2 separate regions of the Homo sapiens genome follow, and region 2 is linked to region 1. The links come from fine-mapping of genetic effects on gene expression. A gene starts in region 1. The other region holds a variant in brackets. All regions are shown on one strand. Distances are from middle to middle. Region 1 holds the start of CD47 (CD47 molecule). Region 2 has its middle 94 kb from the start of LINC00636.

Evidence for each region.
Region 2: its variant is fine-mapped to the expression of CD47 in spleen (GTEx, PIP above 0.99).

What each region holds. Positions count from the first base shown.
Region 1 is chr3:108,089,125-108,093,516 of GRCh38, reverse strand. It overlaps CD47 (CD47 molecule), which reads left to right and starts at 2,486. Exons shown (of 11, transcript NM_001777.4): 1 at 2,486-2,654. The coding sequence starts at 2,609. RefSeq lists silencers at 1,873-1,932, 1,943-1,992, 2,013-2,762.
Region 2 is chr3:107,975,164-107,979,555 of GRCh38, reverse strand. No RefSeq gene overlaps it. Among named protein-coding and RNA genes, the nearest start is that of LINC00636, 94 kb to the right of the region's middle. The variant C/T (reference allele first, on the strand shown) is at 2,116.

The DNA.
Region 1 (4,392 bases):
CAAGCCTCACTTTCCTTATCTATAAAGGTGACAAGAGTGATTTTTTTAAGTTTATTTATCTGTAAAGGGGAAACTGTAGCAACTTTGCTATTATAGGGTAAAAAGAAAAAAGGATGAAAACCAGAACAAGGGAGAGAGACAAGAGAGAGAGCAGTGTCACTTATAACTGTGGGCAAAGTGCTCACCATTCCTCTTTCCCTTTGTTTCCTCATCTCAAAAAGGGAGATCATAACATTTATCCTTTCTGAGGTTGTTATGAAGATTAACTTAGGTGATATAGCTAATGTGTACTTCCTGTGTTCAAAACATTCTAATATGTATTATCCCCTCCCTCTCTACCCAAGAAACTCCTTACATACAGATAAGATGAGCTCAACATCCAAATTAAAATGCTTTGAAAAGTTAAAAGGCAAACCTTTAAAATGATTAAATACTGAAAAGAGCTTAAGGTTATCTCAGAGAGAGGATAATCAAACCTAGGCAGGCTGCTTTGGACTGTCTCTCCTGGGATATGCCTGCTTTTGCCCCACCACCAAAACATACCCCAGCTAGATTCCCAAGAGCAGCAGTGGTCACCCAGGTGGCCTCTCATTCCATTTTCTGCACAAAAAGACGTTAAGCATATAGCTCAGTAGCTCCCAGTGTAAAACAGAACATCACCCGATCTCCACCTCTGAAGGTTGGGGACAGTCCTTTCTAGTCACTCTTCAGCTTTAGGGGGGTTGGTTGGTATCAGGGACAGCTGACAGCCTTATTTAGCCAACCAGCTGCTCTGTGATACACAATGTCCCTAATGCTCAAAGTCTGGTGGATGATTCTTTTGTATCCACATAAGCAGCAGTTGGAGGAGAATCGATGAGTCCCTTTGGTTGCCTCGGGGTGTCAAGGCTGCCATTCAAATCATTACCACCATAATTATTAACCATTGTTTTAGTGAGATGTCTGCCAGGCAATTGTTTTTATTTTTCAATCATTAAAAAAGCAATCAAATTTCACTAGAGCAATGCCTGCCTCACGCCGCATCAACACATTTATTAAACCCCTTCTGTTTGCCGAGCTCAATGGAAAGTCTTGGAGGAGGGAATACTTAAAATGCTCTCGGATTTAAAAGAATTGATAATGCTGTGGGGAAGAGGTTCACACAAAAAAGCAATTACAGGAAGAAGCTCGATAGTATACAATACACTGGTACAGAGTGTCATAGACAGTGCCACTTTCATACGCTGGATTTTATTTCTGTGGCAATGGGATGCTTGGGAGGAGCCGCACTGTGTAGAGGATTTGGAGAAGTGGGGTATTGTGGTGGGAAATTGCTTTCTTTCCCAGGAGGTAGGAGGAAAACAATCAAGGAGGTGGACAGGATGTGCACTCCATTAGAGCAGCCACCAGAGCCTGACTTTTTGATAAGAGAGTACATCAGTTAGGATAACGGTTAAAAGTATCTTTAAAAGACTTTTGCTTCAGGATGAATGATGTGGCCTGTGTGATTCAGCGATAAATTCAAAAGCCTTGTCCCTATTGTGGCTTGCGGCCACATTTCGAACCCATTTTTCAAGCATGTTAAACCCAAGCGCAGCGCAGAGGGCTGCACATGGGGCAGTCACAAACCAAGCTCAATAACCTTGCTGGTGGGGATGTGTTGGATACGCTGCTAATGCCTGTTTGCGACAATGCTCGCTAGTCCCGGTGGTGGCGGTGTTCACAGGTAACAATGTTTACCACCGTGAATGGAACTTGTTTGATTAACCCTGATCAGAGGATGAAAACACTAAAGAACCAAGTGAGAAAGAGGGAAGAGAACCGCATAGGGAAGAGCAGAGCGAGTAGACGAGCCGAACGCAGAGCCCGCGAGGGGCGAGTGGAAGCTCCCTGCGGGCAGGTACCCGACCACCGCCCTGCCCTGGGCGTGGCGGCCTCGGGCTCAGGGACCGCTTCGGCGCTAGACGGCCGCGTCCGGAGGAAACGGGCGCTGGTGAAAGCCTAGGTGTCCTGGTCCACGCGCGCAGCCGGACGTCGGGTCCAGGGAGAGACGCGGGCTGGGGCGGGACGGGACCCGGCCCCTGAAGCGCGAGGGTGGGAGTGAAAGCAAAGAGGAGAAAAGTAGAGAGAGAGGACAGTGGGGCCCAGCGCCGCGCGAAAGGCAGGAACCGACCCGCGGACAGGAACGGGTGCAATGAGGTCCCCGGCGAGCGTGGGAACACAGGGTTCAGCCTCCTGCGGCGGGCGAGCACGCGGACCCCAGGGGCGGGCGGGTGCGACAGGACGTGACCTGGAAGCGCGGCGCGTGCCACCGCCCTGGAGCAGGCATCCGGCCTCCGTGGAGCGGGCAGGCGGGCCCCGGGTCTGGAGCCTGCGACTGGGGAGGGCGCCGCGTCAACAGCAGCGGTTGCGGGGCGGGGCCGAGTGCGCGTGCGCGGCTCTCGCGGGCGGGGAGCAGGCGGGGGAGCGGGCGGGAAGCAGTGGGAGCGCGCGTGCGCGCGGCCGTGCAGCCTGGGCAGTGGGTCCTGCCTGTGACGCGCGGCGGCGGTCGGTCCTGCCTGTAACGGCGGCGGCGGCTGCTGCTCCGGACACCTGCGGCGGCGGCGGCGACCCCGCGGCGGGCGCGGAGATGTGGCCCCTGGTAGCGGCGCTGTTGCTGGGCTCGGCGTGCTGCGGTGAGTGGCTCCTCGCTCCCAGCCCTGCGGCTGCTGTCGCTTCGCCCCCGCGGGCGTGTGGGCTGCGCCCCAGCCAGCCCGGCGGCGCCCTGAAGAGGGTGGCCGGGGCGCAGAACACTCGGGCCCTGAGCGCCCGAAGTGCAGACGTGGGAGGGCCCCACGGGGAATCGGGCGCCCCCCTTCTTCCTCCCTTCCTTTCCCTGGTCGTCTTCTTCCCCCTGGGTGAGAGCGGGGCTCATCTCCTCCACCCGGTTCTCCATCTCCAAATGCACACACACAGGAAGACTCCAAACCGCGCACCTCGCGCAAAAATTAACTAGCAAGAAAGGGCGCGATCAGAGGCAAGGGGCTGCAGCTGCTAGGGATCCCCTTCTTTCGCACCCCTCTCCCTTCTCAGTGCTTAGACGCATTTGGGGTTGAGGGAGGGAGAGTGGGAGGGCCCGGGCCTCTTGCGATGGAAGTGCGCATTTTGGCGAAGTCGGTGAGAAGGGGTTTCTGCCGTTTGCCTCCCACATGAACATAGGAGCGAAGAGGACGTAAAGGACACAATTAAGTTTCATTTTCAACTCAGCATTCAATCAGAAGAATCTTCCGGCCGTGTAATTTTTGCTGTCGTTTTTAATCCTAAAAATAAGCTTGCTGGAAACTCTTCCTTTCTCGTGACCCTCACGCCCCATCAGCCACTTGCATACATTCTAAATTGTACGTTGAAGTTTTTCCCACTTTATTTGGGGGAACCGTTTTAAAAGTAATCTGGTTTTCGCCTGAAATAGGAAGACAGTAACCTCCAGTCAAAACATGTGCAGCAGAATGGGATTTGGTGTTTTTCGACGCCAAAGAACCTCCACCCCCCCACCCCCACCCCGAGCTTTTGGAATCCATTTCGCTTTTGTAAAACGTGTGCTTCGTCTGTAAAAACTGAGCAAGGAATAGAAACATTCGTAGCTCTACAGTGAGTGCCTGTCACACTTCACATCCATAGAGCCTTTTGTGAACTTTTATAAGATTCAGAATTCAGCTTGAGCACCAGTGACAGCAATTGTTACATTTATTCTAGAATGCTAAATTAATTCGATTTTAAACTGATTATTAGCCTCGGTGTGCCGTTCCTAAAGGCTTGTGACTTTAGGTATTTCCAAGATGCCCTTAAGTCTCTGCTTACCACTTTCCTCCCTCCCCGAGCATCCTGGATGTTGGGACTGTGAATCCAGGTCTCCGTTATCTAAATGGTTGATGTTAGTGTTTCCTGTCATCACGTTTAGTATGCTTGTTGCCTTTACTATCATTATAGCTAAAATAATACTGCTTTCAGAGATGTGTTGTATAATCGCATAATAATTTCAGAACGCCTTCATATTGAACCAGATATGAAGTGATACAGTATCATTTATTCAAACTGCCTAAAAAGTAAAAAGTATAAACCATATACTATTTTTAAAACAGGTAGGTTAGATTTAAATCACGTAGTTTAGAACTGTTGGAATGGTACTTTGAGTGATAGGATTTATGTTAGGCCTTCTTTAGTAATAGTTAATATCATGTAATTAGCACTCGTTTACACACAATTTTAATGTGTTCGAATCCCTAGAGTCATCGAATTCAGAATTTATAGTATTTTATTTTACTTAGTTAATATTAACCTAAAAAAAAAGCAAAATACAGGCATTATGCAGTTGAGTTGTGTTAAGTGTGGACTGTAAAACAGGATAGTATTTGTTATAAAATATGTTTTTGTATG
Region 2 (4,392 bases), 110 kb after region 1:
GGAAATCAAAGTTGTAGCCATGCGAGTCCCCAAGATTTAGAAGTAAGAGAAACTTCCCTGGGCCTCATGGTCACAGTTCCATGAGGAACTCCTGGCAAGCAGCAGGGACAGGTGCTCACAGGGCCACTAAAATGAGCTGGGGAACTTGCACAGGTCACAAATATCTGGAGCCACAGTTTTCCATTTGTTGTGAGCTTAGAACCCATTCTTTAAATGAGAACTTATCTAGAATTCCAATACATTGAATGGATAAAAATGCCAAGGCTCTGGCTGGAGGATGGGGGTGTCTTTTCTGATGAGTTTTACCCACCAGGCTGTCCACAGCTAAGAGACCTCTATCTCTGGGGAGCCTGAGCCATCTCCACCCAATCCCAGGGATCCCTAAAACACAATGTGAAGCCAACTGGCCTAGGGCATACACCTGCAGGTGAAAACTTGGCTTAGCTGTGGCTCACGGTAATGTTATTAATTATAGTCACACTTTTAAGTTACACTTATTTTTCACTTATTATGTGCCACAGATTATTCTAATAACTTAACATTAATTTATTGAACCCCCCACAAAAACCCCATGAGTTAGGAACTATTATTACCCTTCTCTTAAAATCAGGAAGCCAAAGTCAAAGGAAATATAGCAATTTACCCAAGCTAGGAAGTGGTAAAGCCAGACTTTGATCCCAGGAAGTCACATTTCAGAACCAGCTTTCTGAATAACTCAGTCTAATTAGTTCTACCTTATTACCTTGGGCAAGTTATTAAATGTGTAGGATTTGTGTGCAAGCGTCTAGTTTTAGCTCTCTTCCCCTTCCCTAAAAAGAGAGGAATGGGCAGAAGAGCCAATCAGGTTTCGCAGGGGCCTGGACCCATGGCTAGGTTTCTTCTGTTCCTCTTTGCAACACTGGAAAACAAACAACTCCTCTAATAGCGCCAGAGAAATCTGACATCCTTGCTCAGTGTTTCACAGGAGGAAGAACTATAGCACTGAAGCCATGGCTATAAATATCAGAGTTAATGAGGGAGGACTCCTGGAGACCTAAATGAATCTATTTTATGGGTTTGTCATACAGCAGGTTAATATGATTCTGACAAATAATTATATTGAAAACTGGACAGGGACTGAGAATGTTGTTATTCCTTTTGAATGTTACAGCAGAGTCTTCTGGCCAATTAAAGGGTGATGACGCCAACACCCAAAGTGCAGAGCAAAACTGTAACAATTTGTGGCATTTAGACAAAGGAGCTTGCAGCCGGCGCCCACCCTGGCACAGGCAATAGGATTGTCATTGTCTAATTCCTTAATGAGCAGAGAAACTCCCTCATATAGAATATTGTATGGTTAGACTTGGTGTGGATCTAGGAGGAAGGGGATAAAGGCAGATGGACTACAAATGTGGCTTTTCTTTTCTTTCTTTCCTTTTTAAACACCAACTATAAGGTTTTCACATGGAGGGACATATACATTGGGTGAGCCCCGAAAACAGATTTTCAGTTTAAATATGTCAAACCCTGATGGCAGCTGCTTCTTGGGCTGGAAGCATGGCTTATTCTCTCTTGGGTTAATTACAGTGGCCTCTGAGGGGAAAGGGCTTCTTACTGAAGAAAAAAATAAAAAGATATTCTGTGGCTGTGATATTTGCCCTCATCTAATTGGGTTGCCCAGAAGTCCTGGAGCTGTGTTCCAGCCAGGAGGGCTGGGACTCCCAGGAAGACTGATCCCAGGGAAGACATTCAAGTTCATGAGTCTTTCCTCAGCCACTGGGGGCTTCTCTCCCAGGTCTACAGGCTGTTACTGCACAAGGGCATTTTCCCAAGGGACTGCAGAGAGGCTGAAATTCAGCCCTTCCTCTCTCACCCTGCCTGACCTCCTGGAGGAAAGGGGACATTTTCTAATTTGTATAAAGATGCTACCAGGGTTAGCAGGGGTCCTCAGCTCTTCCGTCATGGTCAAGGACCACTGCTTGGGCTGCAAGAGCAACTTAAAGGCACGATTTTTACTTGTCTTTCTAATGTTCCCACGCTACTGCCATTGCCCTCTGTATTTTTCTGCCGTATCTGTCGCCTCTCATATGGCGTAAAGAGAGTGAGAAACAAGACATACAGTTACTACATTAAGAA[C/T]GAAATCCCATCTGGCCTTGACTCTGTTGGCGCTGTTTCTTTTCATCAATAAGATCCTTTTCTCACTATGTCCCCCTTCCCAGTAGTTTTCCAGCCAGGAATTGCAAGTGAGATATTTTTCAAATGTCCACACCAAAACCCTCTTCTCACAACCTGAGTCAATCTGGACCTTGTGCAAAGTAAAACTTAGGGGAACTGCTTTAGCAAGAAAGCAACTCAGACACTGTGACCAATCAATGGATCAATCAATCGATCAAATTTAAAAGTACAGACTTCAACAATGAGCTTTTCTTTATAACATCCTCTAAAGCAGTTCCATATTAAATTGTTTAGCTAAATTCTCATGAAGGTAAGTGTGGTGACTTCCAAGAGAAAACAAATCATAATATTGCCATGAGAAAAACTCTCAATTCTTGAGGACAGCTGCACCCTCCCCTCATCCAAAAGGTTGCAAATAGTGTGGGACTCTCTCCAGGTCACTGAGCACTGGCCTGGGGACCCTCTGCCAGGCCCCTGTCCCTGCGTGGCTCACACTCCCTTCCTGCCACCACCCAGTTTGAGCAGAGGGCCCTTGGTTTGAGCAGGTCATCCCCAAAAACAGAGAAAGACCTACCTGAAGTTAATCCCTCAAATCCAGTATTTGGAAAAAAAAAAAAGTCCGTCCTCCTTTATTTTCTTTCCCAATTTCAAGCCAGGATAATGCCATATATTTTTCTAGACAGCAGATACACAGCATAAGATAAAATCATTTTTTTCCAGTTAAGCCTCCTGCTGGGTTCCCTAGCCAACTTTCTGCAGCTCATAAAATAAACACAATTCCCATTCATCCCCCTAGCACAGATCCATCATTGCTTGGCTATGGACAAACGGGCAGGTGGTGCTGCACAACAGGCTGGGATGAGCTCTTTTTTTCCTTCCTGGACGGAAAAGGTAGGATTAACACAAGATCTTTTCTATTAGTGGATGACAGGGCAGACAACTGGGAAGTTAGAGTAAATTTCATCCTGGAGGAAAAATAAATACGGAGGTGGTCATCAGAACAGTCTTGCTGTCTCCATAAAGGCAAGTCTGGAATCTTCCATATAGATCACTATCTCATGCACAGTGCAGGCTGGCTTTGTTAGATGGAGATAAGCAACTATGTATATGTGGGGATGTGAGGCGGTGAGGGGGTGGGGATTGGAGAGGTAATAATTTGAGTGCATCAAAAGTGGACCCTGATGCCAGGCAGTGGCTCATGCCCAGCATTTTTGGAGGCCAAGGCAGGAGGATCGCTTGAGGCAAGGAGTTTGAGATCAGCCTGGGCAACACAGCAAGAACCTGCCTCTACAAAATAAATTTTCTTAAGTGTGCCCTGATCAGAAATATGATGACCTACTTACAAAGCATTACTTCCTGTTAGCATTGCTTCCTTTTAAATTTTGAAAGTGTGGGGGGACTTCAATGAAACAGCTTCAGCAAAAGAAAGACATACAAACAGACATAGATTTTCTATAAAGTTAATAGAGCTTAAAGTCCCTCAACTGCTTGAACCTCTGAGTAGTGAGAATTGTTGGGAGTTGCAGAATGTTCTAGGTGGGGAGGGGAAGCCGGGCTGTAATTAGAAAGCATTTCTGTACAAGCACACAGTAATTTCAAAGCTGCTGAAGCTTTTCTGTACAATCACACACACACAGCTGCCACGTCTTTGAGCTGCTGAGATGTTGCCATGATGTGGTGGTGCCTGAGGAGTGGTCCTTTCTTTGGCATCTGCAGGCCCTGAGGCATGGTCTGGAACTGGAAGAGGAACAAAGGGTTGCTGAAGTCTGCTTTGCAGGTAGATGTCAAGTGCTAAGGTTGCTAGAGGAAGAGTTAGTTGTGCAAAATTAGTGCTGCCATTAGAAAGAGTGTCTCCTCCTCAGTTAAGATTCAGAAATTTCTGTCTCTGATAATTAATGATTTCTCTAGGACCTTATCTACCTGCAAGAATATGATGCACTTGATTCAGTGACAACCTATTGGATGAGCTTGCATAGTGAGGAGACAATCTGTACTTCATCCTATAGGAAACACCACAAATAGTCCTGGACTTGGAGTGCAAAAAATGCTTTCTGAAGTATCCTAAAAGTCCCTATCCCCACTGTTTCCTGAGGGAAGGATGGGATGGATTCTAGGTCAGGGTACTCCTTCTAGCTGGGGAGCAGATTTGCTTGGAGGTGATCTACATATAAAATTGTTAAGTGAGAATTTGTGAAGGGTCAGAGATTTTGTCTCACTTCCAAGCTAACAGGTTAGCTG